Homo sapiens: one gene and its partner. The protein of the gene in region 2 purifies or fractionates together with the protein of the main gene of each other region. This does not show direct contact. Each region holds a gene or a part of one and is shown on either strand. Other genes may lie near its edges.

What was found. Proteins that work in one complex are often made in the same cells at the same time.
Region 1: the proteins of MYH7B (region 2) and COPS7B purify together in Homo sapiens (affinity purification with mass spectrometry; one large-scale study listed by BioGRID and IntAct). This does not show direct contact.

The regions. Positions count from the first base shown.
Region 1 is NC_000002.12:231,788,681-231,793,348, reverse strand, and holds part of COPS7B (COP9 signalosome complex subunit 7b), read right to left. Parts: coding exon 4,617-4,668; intron 4,611-4,616; exon of another isoform or gene 2,176-4,610; intron 1,617-2,175; coding exon 1,541-1,616; intron 1-1,540. UniProt on the Homo sapiens protein: Component of the COP9 signalosome complex (CSN), a complex involved in various cellular and developmental processes.
Region 2 is NC_000020.11:34,979,231-34,984,297, forward strand, and holds part of MYH7B (myosin-7B), read left to right. Parts: intron 1-159; coding exon 160-266; intron 267-430; coding exon 431-574; intron 575-1,347; coding exon 1,348-1,504; coding exon of another isoform or gene 1,505-1,565; intron 1,566-1,802; coding exon 1,803-1,830; intron 1,831-3,228; coding exon 3,229-3,325; intron 3,326-4,088; exon of another isoform or gene 4,089-5,067.

The DNA.
Region 1 (4,668 bases), on a different chromosome or scaffold from region 2:
GCTGAAATTCACCTGGTGGGAATTTCTAACCTGTACGGAGACAGGCTTTTTATCCCACTTGTTTCCACATTCCTCTGGGAGTGTTACATAAAAAGGCATGCGCATCATATTACCTTTTTAAAGTCCCAAAAATTCTAAATTCTGAAACATCTAACTTCGAGGAGTGTAGGTAAGGAATAATGGGCTTGTATTGTTACTCCCACTTTACAGACGAGGAAATTGAGCTGCATAAGGTTACTTCATTTGTCAACGAACACACAACTAGTAGAAGTGGAGCCAGACTGGCTACAGGCAGTCTGCTAACAGAGTCTGTGCAATGCTGCCTCTTTAGTAAGCAAGGACAGAAAAACAGAACACATTCCCTGGAACAAAGGGAAGGTCAGAAAAAAATGTGGTGTACCAGGAACTGGCAAACTGTCCAGTCTGACAGCAGCACAAAGTAGAAGTGACCAGGGAGAAAGAAGAAGTCAGGGATATCGCAGCGAAGGCCCTGAGTATCAGGCTACAGTCATACCATTAAAAAAGGGTAGGAAAGCCAGAAAAAAATGCTTTGGGTAGAAGGTAAGTTAGTGTTTGGACATACAAATACCTCAACCTAATACTTCAGATTATAATTTAAAATGACCCAAATGCCCTGCAACAGAAAATGAGCTAAGTAGATTATGAAATATTAAAAATATTAAAAAGACTTAAAATATGGATAAATGTTTGTAAGTGGGAAGAAACAAGCAAGACATAAAACTGTATACATAGTTGTACCTATGTAATACAAAACACAAACATAAGGGGCACAAAAAAGTCCAGCATCCAAATGTCTGAGCAACATATGAGTGACATTTATTTATTTATTTGTTTGTTTGACAGAGTCTCGCTCTGTTGCCCAGGCTGGAGTACAGCGGTGCAATCTCAGCTTACTACAGTCTCTATCTCCCAGGTTCAAGCAATTCTGCTGCCTCAGCCTCCGGAGTGGCTGGGATTACAGGCGCCCACCACCACGCCGAGCTAATTTTTGTATTTTTAGTAGAGACAGGGTTTCACCATGTTGGCCAGGCTGGTGTAAAACTCCTCACCTCAAGTGATCTGCCTGCCTCGGCCTCCCAAAGTGCTGGGATTACAGGCATGAGCCACCGCGCCCAGCCTATGAGTGACTTTTAAAAAGTCTATTTTCCAAATTTTCTTCAATATGCTGGTATTATTTTGATAATATTTAAAATGTTGAAACATTCTACAGGTGGGTATTCTGCACTTCACAGCACTCCAAGAGCCCTACAAACACCAGTCCTCAAGAATCTCATCTGGAAAACAAACAAGGGCTACATTTGTGGATGAGCACACACAGGCCCCATTTGACCCACTAGAATATAAAAGGTGAGAAGGAACATTCCCTTTGTGAGGTCACCCACCGGGCACAGCAAAATGGGAGGCAGCCAGGTCAAGAAGTCTCCCCACTACCCCATGCTTTATATCTCAAACCTTGATGGTCTTCCAAACTGAGCAACATAATTAACACAAGTCTTTTGAAGGATCTTCACCAACTCACCTATGTAATCTGGGTATGTCCCATAGGCAAACAGGTTCAACAACTGCAAATAAGCAGCATTAGCTCCTTCCGCAAGCTGAAGAGGAAAAAAAAAGTTCACCACAGACCAAACTGTCTACCAATCACTGTAGTGTTCAAACAGAGGACGGGTGAGCATGTGTCAAAGATGCCATGGCTGTTTATTCTGTACTATTTGATTACTTGGCCCCTGGGGTCTCTACCAACTCTGGTTCTTCGGGAAAAAATAAACAAGATTATTAAAGCCCCAAATTTAATTTCTCTCTCTCAGGAATGTTTTACTTTCTATACAGCATGCCCAACGAACTGCTTTTCTCTCACACACACATACAAAGCATTAAGCATTGGAAGGAGTTCAAATCTTCTCAAGATTCTGTTTGCATTAAAACAAAGACTGGAGCAGCCCTATCTACATACCAGCTTGGTAGGTATGGCATGAGCCACCACCAACCCAAAGTGAACAAAGCTCAGGGTTGGTTCCAAGTTTCAGGACTACACGTGGACTATGAACCCTGGGAGAGACCAGCACATCATAAGGTATGACAGAAAGCCAGGCTGGGACAGAAAACCAGGGTATCAGTCTGCCCCAAATCAAAATGTTCATTAAAATTACTTACTCTTCACTGATGCTGATGGCAAAAAGCCATGTGTAGAAGAAAAACGAAAGAGCCACTGTTCTGCCTGGAACTTCTCTGCTGTCAATTACGTTAACTGGTTGTTGTTGTTGTTGTTGTTGTTTAAATCACAAACGTGGGCCGGGCGCGGTGGCTCACGCCTGTAATCCCAGCACTTTGGGAGGCCGAGGCGGGTGGATCATGAGGTCAGGAGATCGAGACCATCCTGGCTAACAAGGTGAAACCCCGTCTCTACTAAAAATACAAAAAATTAGCCGGGCGCGGTGGCGGGCGCCTGTAGTCCCAGCTACTTGGGAGGCTGAGGCAGGAGAATGGCGTGAACCCGGGAAGCGGAGCTTGCAGTGAGCCGAGATTGCGCCACTGCAGTCCGCAGTCCGGCCTGGGCGACAGAGCGAGACTCCGTCTCAAAAAAAAAAAAAAAAAATCACAAACGTGCTCCTGTTACCCTTCCAACTTACCAAGCCCAGTAAACTCTAAACAGGAATAGCAAGTGGTAGTCTACAGACAGCAATAGCGATACTACTCAATTTTAGCCATTAAAAAAAATAAAGCTTCCAAGAAATGCATCTATAATTTCAGATCACTGAAAGGCAACCAGCTTATTCTCAGCTCACATATGGAAAAACGCAATGTATGGGGAGATAAAGGTGGTCTGCTAAGCACCCTATGGAGAACTCCAGCACCATAATACCTCAGGCTACTTTCTCAGGTTACCACAAACCTCCTGAAGTCCCTGAATCAGAAGGGGAAGAAACCTGGTAAAGACCATCCAATCTAGCCCCCCTTTTCAGAAACATAATTAACAAAACTAGCCGGAAAAGAGCATTTTCTCCAGAGCAGATACTCCAACACTTCTCCCACTGGCCTAAATCAATAAGGTCTTTCTGACTTTACTTTCCATCCATCTCCTCTTAGCCAATCTTCCACAGTTACAAAACAACTACTTGGCATATTCATGCAGGCTGTTCATGAACCTGAAGGAACATATTACCCCTTGGTCATCTCTTGTGTTGAAAAATGAACTCAGTTTTCTGAAATTTTCTTCATAAAACTCATTTTCCACTTCTGGTAAATTAAATTTTTATTGAAAGCCTACTGTGTGTCAGGCTACGTATTCAGCTCTAAAGAAACAATGGTGAGCACTACAGACCTCCTCACAGAGTTTATAGTTCGGCAAGCAAGGCTGACATTAAATAAAAATTTACAGTGAAAAAGTAAAAGTGGCTCTTCTCATCTCTGAACATCACAGGTAGAGGAGACATAATTGGGCACCTGAAATGGCTGGACTGTAGGGAACTGCTCCAGTTTCCCCATCAAGAGGAATAGGCAGACACACAGCACCGAATCCAATAAACTGAAGGCCGGCAACTCCTTTGGTTACAACTAACTGATTCACTGAAACTCCTGTTAAAACTGACTGTGGGTGTGGAGCCAACAGCAAAGGTGTTGTGGTGGTCATGAAGGTGATAAACTGCCCAACAAAAGCAAACCACCTCCTATATGCAAATCGCCACCACCAAGAACTCCGGGGCCACTCTCAACAGCATCCAGCACATGCTCCACAAGAAGTACCATCACCCAGATCTATGCATGGCAGCTTCCACAGAGCCAGCACCAGTCTGCATAGCCAGAAGCCTGTGAGGATGAAGAGGAAGGGGACCTGCCCCACCAATCCGCCAAAAGCTCCTGAGCACCAGCCTCCACCCCACAAAACAATAAAGATGCTTACAGACTTTTCTCAATAAGTGAATAAATATAAATAAATAAAAATGTTCAAATTGGAAAGTAGAGGTTGAGAAGTATAGATTGCTTTACATCTCTTTGTTCCTTCTGTTCAATGGATCTTCTCATTTTTGAGGCACAATGACCAAAACTGGATATCCAAGGTTTTAATAACAAGCAAGCAAACAAGTAAAATGAACTATGTCCTAGCTTTTCATGTCATATCTAACACATCTAACACATTTAGCACAACACTGCCCTTTTCCTCAAGAACAATACACTCCTATTCATGTCCATCTTATGTTCAATAGCAGTATGTTTCTGCTGTGTGTCCCTGACCAATCTTCCTTATCGATATTGCACTGGAGGTTTCTGGTCCTTAAGAATGCATGAATCTACTCCTATTAAACAGCCCATGCTTACAGCACTACTTTTCTAATTTATCAGGATCAATTTGACTTTTTTACTATCTTTTAGGTTATTATTAGCAACAATCTAATTTTACCCAAGGTAAGATAAAAATACTGGATAAAAGGAGCCAAGGATATTCTCTCAATCTCTCCCTCTGCCCCACCAATTCCCATCTGTCTCACAATAGGGTACCTCACAGGTTCACAATACTTCAGCACTGAAATTCTTTGGAAACCTGGAGAATTACAGAGTCTTAGAATAAAGAGAAATTGTTTGCAAACCGTTCTTACCTCCTGCACGTTGGCCAGCTCCAGAAGTTCTCCAAAGACATACACTCCGGGA
Region 2 (5,067 bases):
AGCCTGGGTTTGGAGGGTTCTTCACTGGAACTCCTGGGTCCTGGCAGAGGGGCTTTGGGGAGGGTCACAGCTGTATGGATACCATGGCTTGGGAACTCCAGCTAGAACCTGGAGGTGCCTCAGCCCCTCTCTGAGTCCAGAGCTCTCTCTGCAACCCAGGGAAGAAGCGAGTCTGGGTGCCTGATGAACAGGACGCCTACGTGGAGGCCGAGGTCAAGTCGGAGGCTACCGGGGGCAGAGTCACCGTGGAGACCAAAGACCAGAAGGTTCCGTTCCCCCTTTCCTGAGATTAGCCTCTCTGTCCCTAGGCCTCCTGGCCAACAGGATCTGCCCTCTGGTTGAAGGGGGTCTGGGTATGTGGGTGGGGGTGACAGGTGAGGTCGGTCGGTTCCTCCCGGTCCCCCGGCCCCTGACACGATCTCCCTGGTAGGTGCTGATGGTGCGTGAAGCCGAGCTGCAGCCCATGAACCCGCCTCGCTTCGACTTACTGGAGGACATGGCCATGATGACGCACCTGAACGAGGCCTCTGTGCTGCACAACCTGCGCCAGCGCTATGCCCGCTGGATGATCTATGTGAGCCCCAGGCCCGGGCCATGGGCGGGGTGGGGCTTGTATGTGGGGCGGGGCTAGAGATGAGGTGCTGGGGGCGGGCCCATAGCGGTGGGGCGGGGCTGTGAGCGGTGGATCGGGGCTGTGAATGATAGAGCGGGTCCATAGCGGGGGTGGGGCTGTGAGCGATGAGGCGGGGCTCTGAGCAGTGGGGGCGGGGCTGGAGGTTGGGCCTTGGGACCTTAGGGGAGCAGCTGTAGCAGTGCGGGGCGGGTCTAGAACTCACCTGCGGACTATGGAGGCCGTGCGTGTGGGCTGGGGCAGGGCTGTGAGCACAAGTCAGGGGTGAGGCCAGGACGGCCACAGAGGGTGTGGTGTGGCAAGTCAAGTAGCTCCTTGAGGAATATCGCAGGGTTCTTCTGAAGACTGGGGCCTGGGGCCTGGGGATGGGAACTTGCGTATCCCTCCCAAAACCCTACCTATGGGGGGAGAATGTGGTGGCCCATGCCTGTAATCCCAGCACTTTGGGAGGGCAAGGCGGGCGGATCACCTGACGTCAGAAGTTCGAGACCAGCCTGGCCAACATGGTGAAACCCCGTCTGTACTAAAAATACAAAAATTAGCCGGTCGTGGTGGCACGCGCTTGTAGTCCTAGCTACCCTGGGAGGCTGAGGCAGGACCCAGGAGGCGGAGGTTGCGGTGAGCCGAGATCATGCCGTTGTACTCCAGCCTGGGAGACAGAGCAAGACTCCATCTCAAAAACAACAACATAAACCCTACCTATACTCTCTCTTCAGACCTACTCAGGCCTCTTCTGTGTCACCATCAACCCCTACAAATGGCTCCCAGTCTATACGGCCTCCGTAGTGGCTGCTTACAAGGGAAAGCGCCGCTCAGATTCCCCGCCCCATATATATGCGGTGGCGGACAACGCCTACAACGACATGCTGCGCAGTAAGGGCCGCCTGGACTCCTCCCCAACCGCAGACCCCGACCTCGGTCCCGGGAGGCCTCTGTAAGGGACCCCCTTCCCCCACTGGCACTGCCCCCCTTTTGACGCTGCTGGACATGGTCGCCCAGCCGTTCTGTCCCTCCGCATGGGAGCTGACCTCCACTAGGGACAGCCCCACCTGCTCCTTCCCATTCCTGGCTCTGGGTGGTGGGGTCTGCCCCAGATGGATACCCAGGGTGTTCCACCTGTGGCTGGCCCCACACCTTGGCTGACTTCTCTATCCCCTTCCCTTTCCTCCAGACCGAGACAACCAGTCCATGCTGATCACGTGAGTGTGGGGCTCTGGGGGTGGGGTGGAAAATGCTGGCCATCTGGCAGAAAGAGGGCGGTACCACAGTCATTTCCCAGGATTGAATCCAAAGTGCTTAGGCCAGGACTTTTACCACCTGGAGCTAGTGTCCCAGCTGAAGCTAAATTAGGCCTGAGCACTTTCCCTGCCCCCATTCTGAACAGATGTGTTCTTGATGGGGGATAGGGAGGGGACACCCACAAACGGAGTGACCACCAGCCCCACACCTCCTCTCCCCGGGGCCTGGAATCTCCCACCTTGATCCTCTGGGGTTCTAATTCTGGCTCAGGGGCAGCGGAAAGATTCCTCTGCTTTTCCTCCTTTTTACCATCTACTTATGTCTGAATCTTACCTCTGATCTTTCCATTGCCTCTGTGGGAAAATGGTAGAATAATTCTTACATGCCAGGCTCATGTCCAGTCAGGCCAATATGGACAATGTTTAGTGTGAGTGTGCATGCGCGTATGCAGTTAAGAGCAAGTGCCTTGGCCGGGCACAGTGGCTCATGCCCGTAATTTCTGCACTTTGGGAGGCTGAGGTGGGTGGATCACTTGACGTCAGGAGTTCGAGACCAGCCTGGCCAACATGGTGAAACCCCATCTCTACTAAAAATACAAAAAATTAGCTGGGCGTGGTGGCAGGTGCCTGTAATCCCAGCTACTCAGGAGGCTGAGGCAGGAGAATTGCTTGAACCCAGGAGGCGGAGGTTGCCGTGAGCCAAGATCACGCCACTGCACTCCAGCCTGGGCCACAGAATGAGACTCCATCTCACGAAAAAAAAAAAAAAAAAAAAAAAAGCAAGTACCTTTAACCCAGACGGGCCCGGCTGAGTGTGGTGGCTCACACCTGTAATCCCAGCACTTGGGGAGGCTGAGGCAGGAGGATTGCCTGAGGCCAGGGGTTTGAGACCAGCCTGAGCAACATAGCGAGACCCCATCTTTACCAAAAAAAAAAAATTGAAAAGTTAAATAAAAAATCCTACCTACCACACAAAGTTATGAGTCAGTGAGTTGATATATGTGCCTGGCACACAGCAGGGACAGCCACAGAACTCCTGAGGCCCAGTTCCTTGTTCCTAAAATGGGGGTGATAATGGAGCCTGCCTTCCAGGGTTTTCTGAGCTGTAACTGAGCCAATGGAGTAAAGTGCCGGGCACTGAGTTAGTCCGTAGTGGACAATGGCATCATCGTGTGTTGTCATCTCACAGGGATGGTCTACACTGGCTTGCTTTGTACACCTCTGAGGGTTGATCCATCCTTGGGGGTTTCAAGCTGGGGGGAAGGAGAGGTGGAGGGCTCTGCTTGAGGGGTGAGGCATTGGGGGTGGGGGAGAATTAGGCCAGATGGGCATTGGTGACTCATGTTTGTGTCGTCCAAGCGGAGAGTCGGGGGCCGGTAAGACGGTTAACACCAAGCGGGTCATTCAGTACTTTGCCATCGTCGCTGCCCTGGGAGACGGGCCGGGCAAGAAGGCCGTAAGACTTGCCCACTCGGGCATGCTCCCCGTTGCTTCTCGCTGTTTTTCTTTTCTTTCTTCCTCTCTTTTTTTTTTTTCCCCCTTTTTAAAAATTTTACTCCCCAGAACCCTGAGCCCTGCCTGAGCCTCCCACCCTGGTGGGGGACTCTGGCCTGAGCAAGGCTTGACCACAAAGGCTGTGGCCACCTGACGCGCCTGCCTTCGCCTTCCCATTGGTAAACATGGAGGGGTGGGGCCACGTTGCCGTTTCTAAATTTGTGTAATTTTTATCTTCCATTGTGACCTTCATATATTGAAAGAGTTTACTAGATGGGCTGCTTTTACTAAGCGTTGTTGTCTTGGTTTCCCTGACAGTTACCTGCTGCTGACACATTAGACACAGAGGTTGGCTGGCATGCAGGGCACTGGGCATTCCCAGCAGCCGGGGTTGGCAGGGCAATTTTGTGCCTTGTGATTTCTGTACAGTTTTTGGAAATTTCTGAAACAATGGGGCCAAGTTTTTTTGTTTTTGTTTTTAAGGCATAACATTTCATCCCTAGCCTTGGGGCCAGTTGTTCAGAGCCCTGTGGCTACCCCTAGATGGGCTGCCTTTTTCCAGAAGCCCGAGGCCTCCCTCCCCACCCAGTCCCTGCTCCTGGTCCTGTTAAGCCTTGCTTTATTCTGGGTGTTTTTCTTGTTTTTCCCCTGTTTTCTTTCTTTCTTTCTTTTCTCTTTCTTTTTTCTTTCTTTTCTTTTCTTTTCTTTTTTTTTTTTTTTTTTTGCCTTTTCCTTTTTACCCATTTGATTGTCTTGATTTTTGATTTTCATTTCAGTTTTGTTTTGTTTTGTTTTTGCTGTTGACTTTTTGGTCCTTTTTCCTCCTTCCCTTTCCTGCCCTGTCTTCCAAATCCCTAAAAAGGTCTCTGGGGACGTAACAGAAAGTTGGGTGGGTCAAGTGACAGGAAGAGATGTCAGGGAGAGGCCAGAGCTGGCAGGGACACAGCTGGAAGGGCAGAGGAGCACCTGGGCAGAAAGGAGCTGGGACAGTGGAGCCCAGGGGAGAGGGTCGGGCAAGGGAGGGGTGGGAGAGGCTGCCCGCAGGAGCCATGGCTGCAGGAACTTAAAAGATTGATCAGCTCCCCTTACCTTGGCCCCAAATTTGGCCAAACGGGCTAGAGAGAGCCCTGCACAAAAGCACTGGATGGGAGTGTATTGGGGGGTTCCACCTCCCCTGCCCAATGTCCCTGTGGGTATTTTAACTCTTGGGCTCCCTGGAGGTGAATGAATGACCACAAAGTCCGTGGTGGTATATCTGTTCCCTCCAGAATCCATTCCTTCCCTTCTCTCCCTTTCTTCCTTGGCTCCCAGCATCCGGAGTAGGGAAGAGAAGGAAAGGAAAAGGAAGGGAAAGTGAGGATGAGGCTAGGATGGGGAGAAGGAGGATCTGCTCAATTCACTTAGTCCCCCTGGGTGACACACAGGACCGCTGTGGCGTCCAGGCGGCAGGATGCTGGGCACCTGCCCTGCCGCTCCTGACTTGCTGTGTGGCCTTGAGCAGATCCACTCCCTGCCCAGAGCTAAGTCTCCTCATTTGCAAATTAGGGCTAATAATGGGCACCTGGCAGGGCCTTTGTGCGCACTGGTAGGTATACAGGCAGACAAACAATGAAGACACACCCAGTTGCATTACAAAGGAGAGGTGTGTAAGGTCATAGTGGGAGGTTAGGGCAGGAAGGTTCAGACCAGGAAGAGGTCTATTCC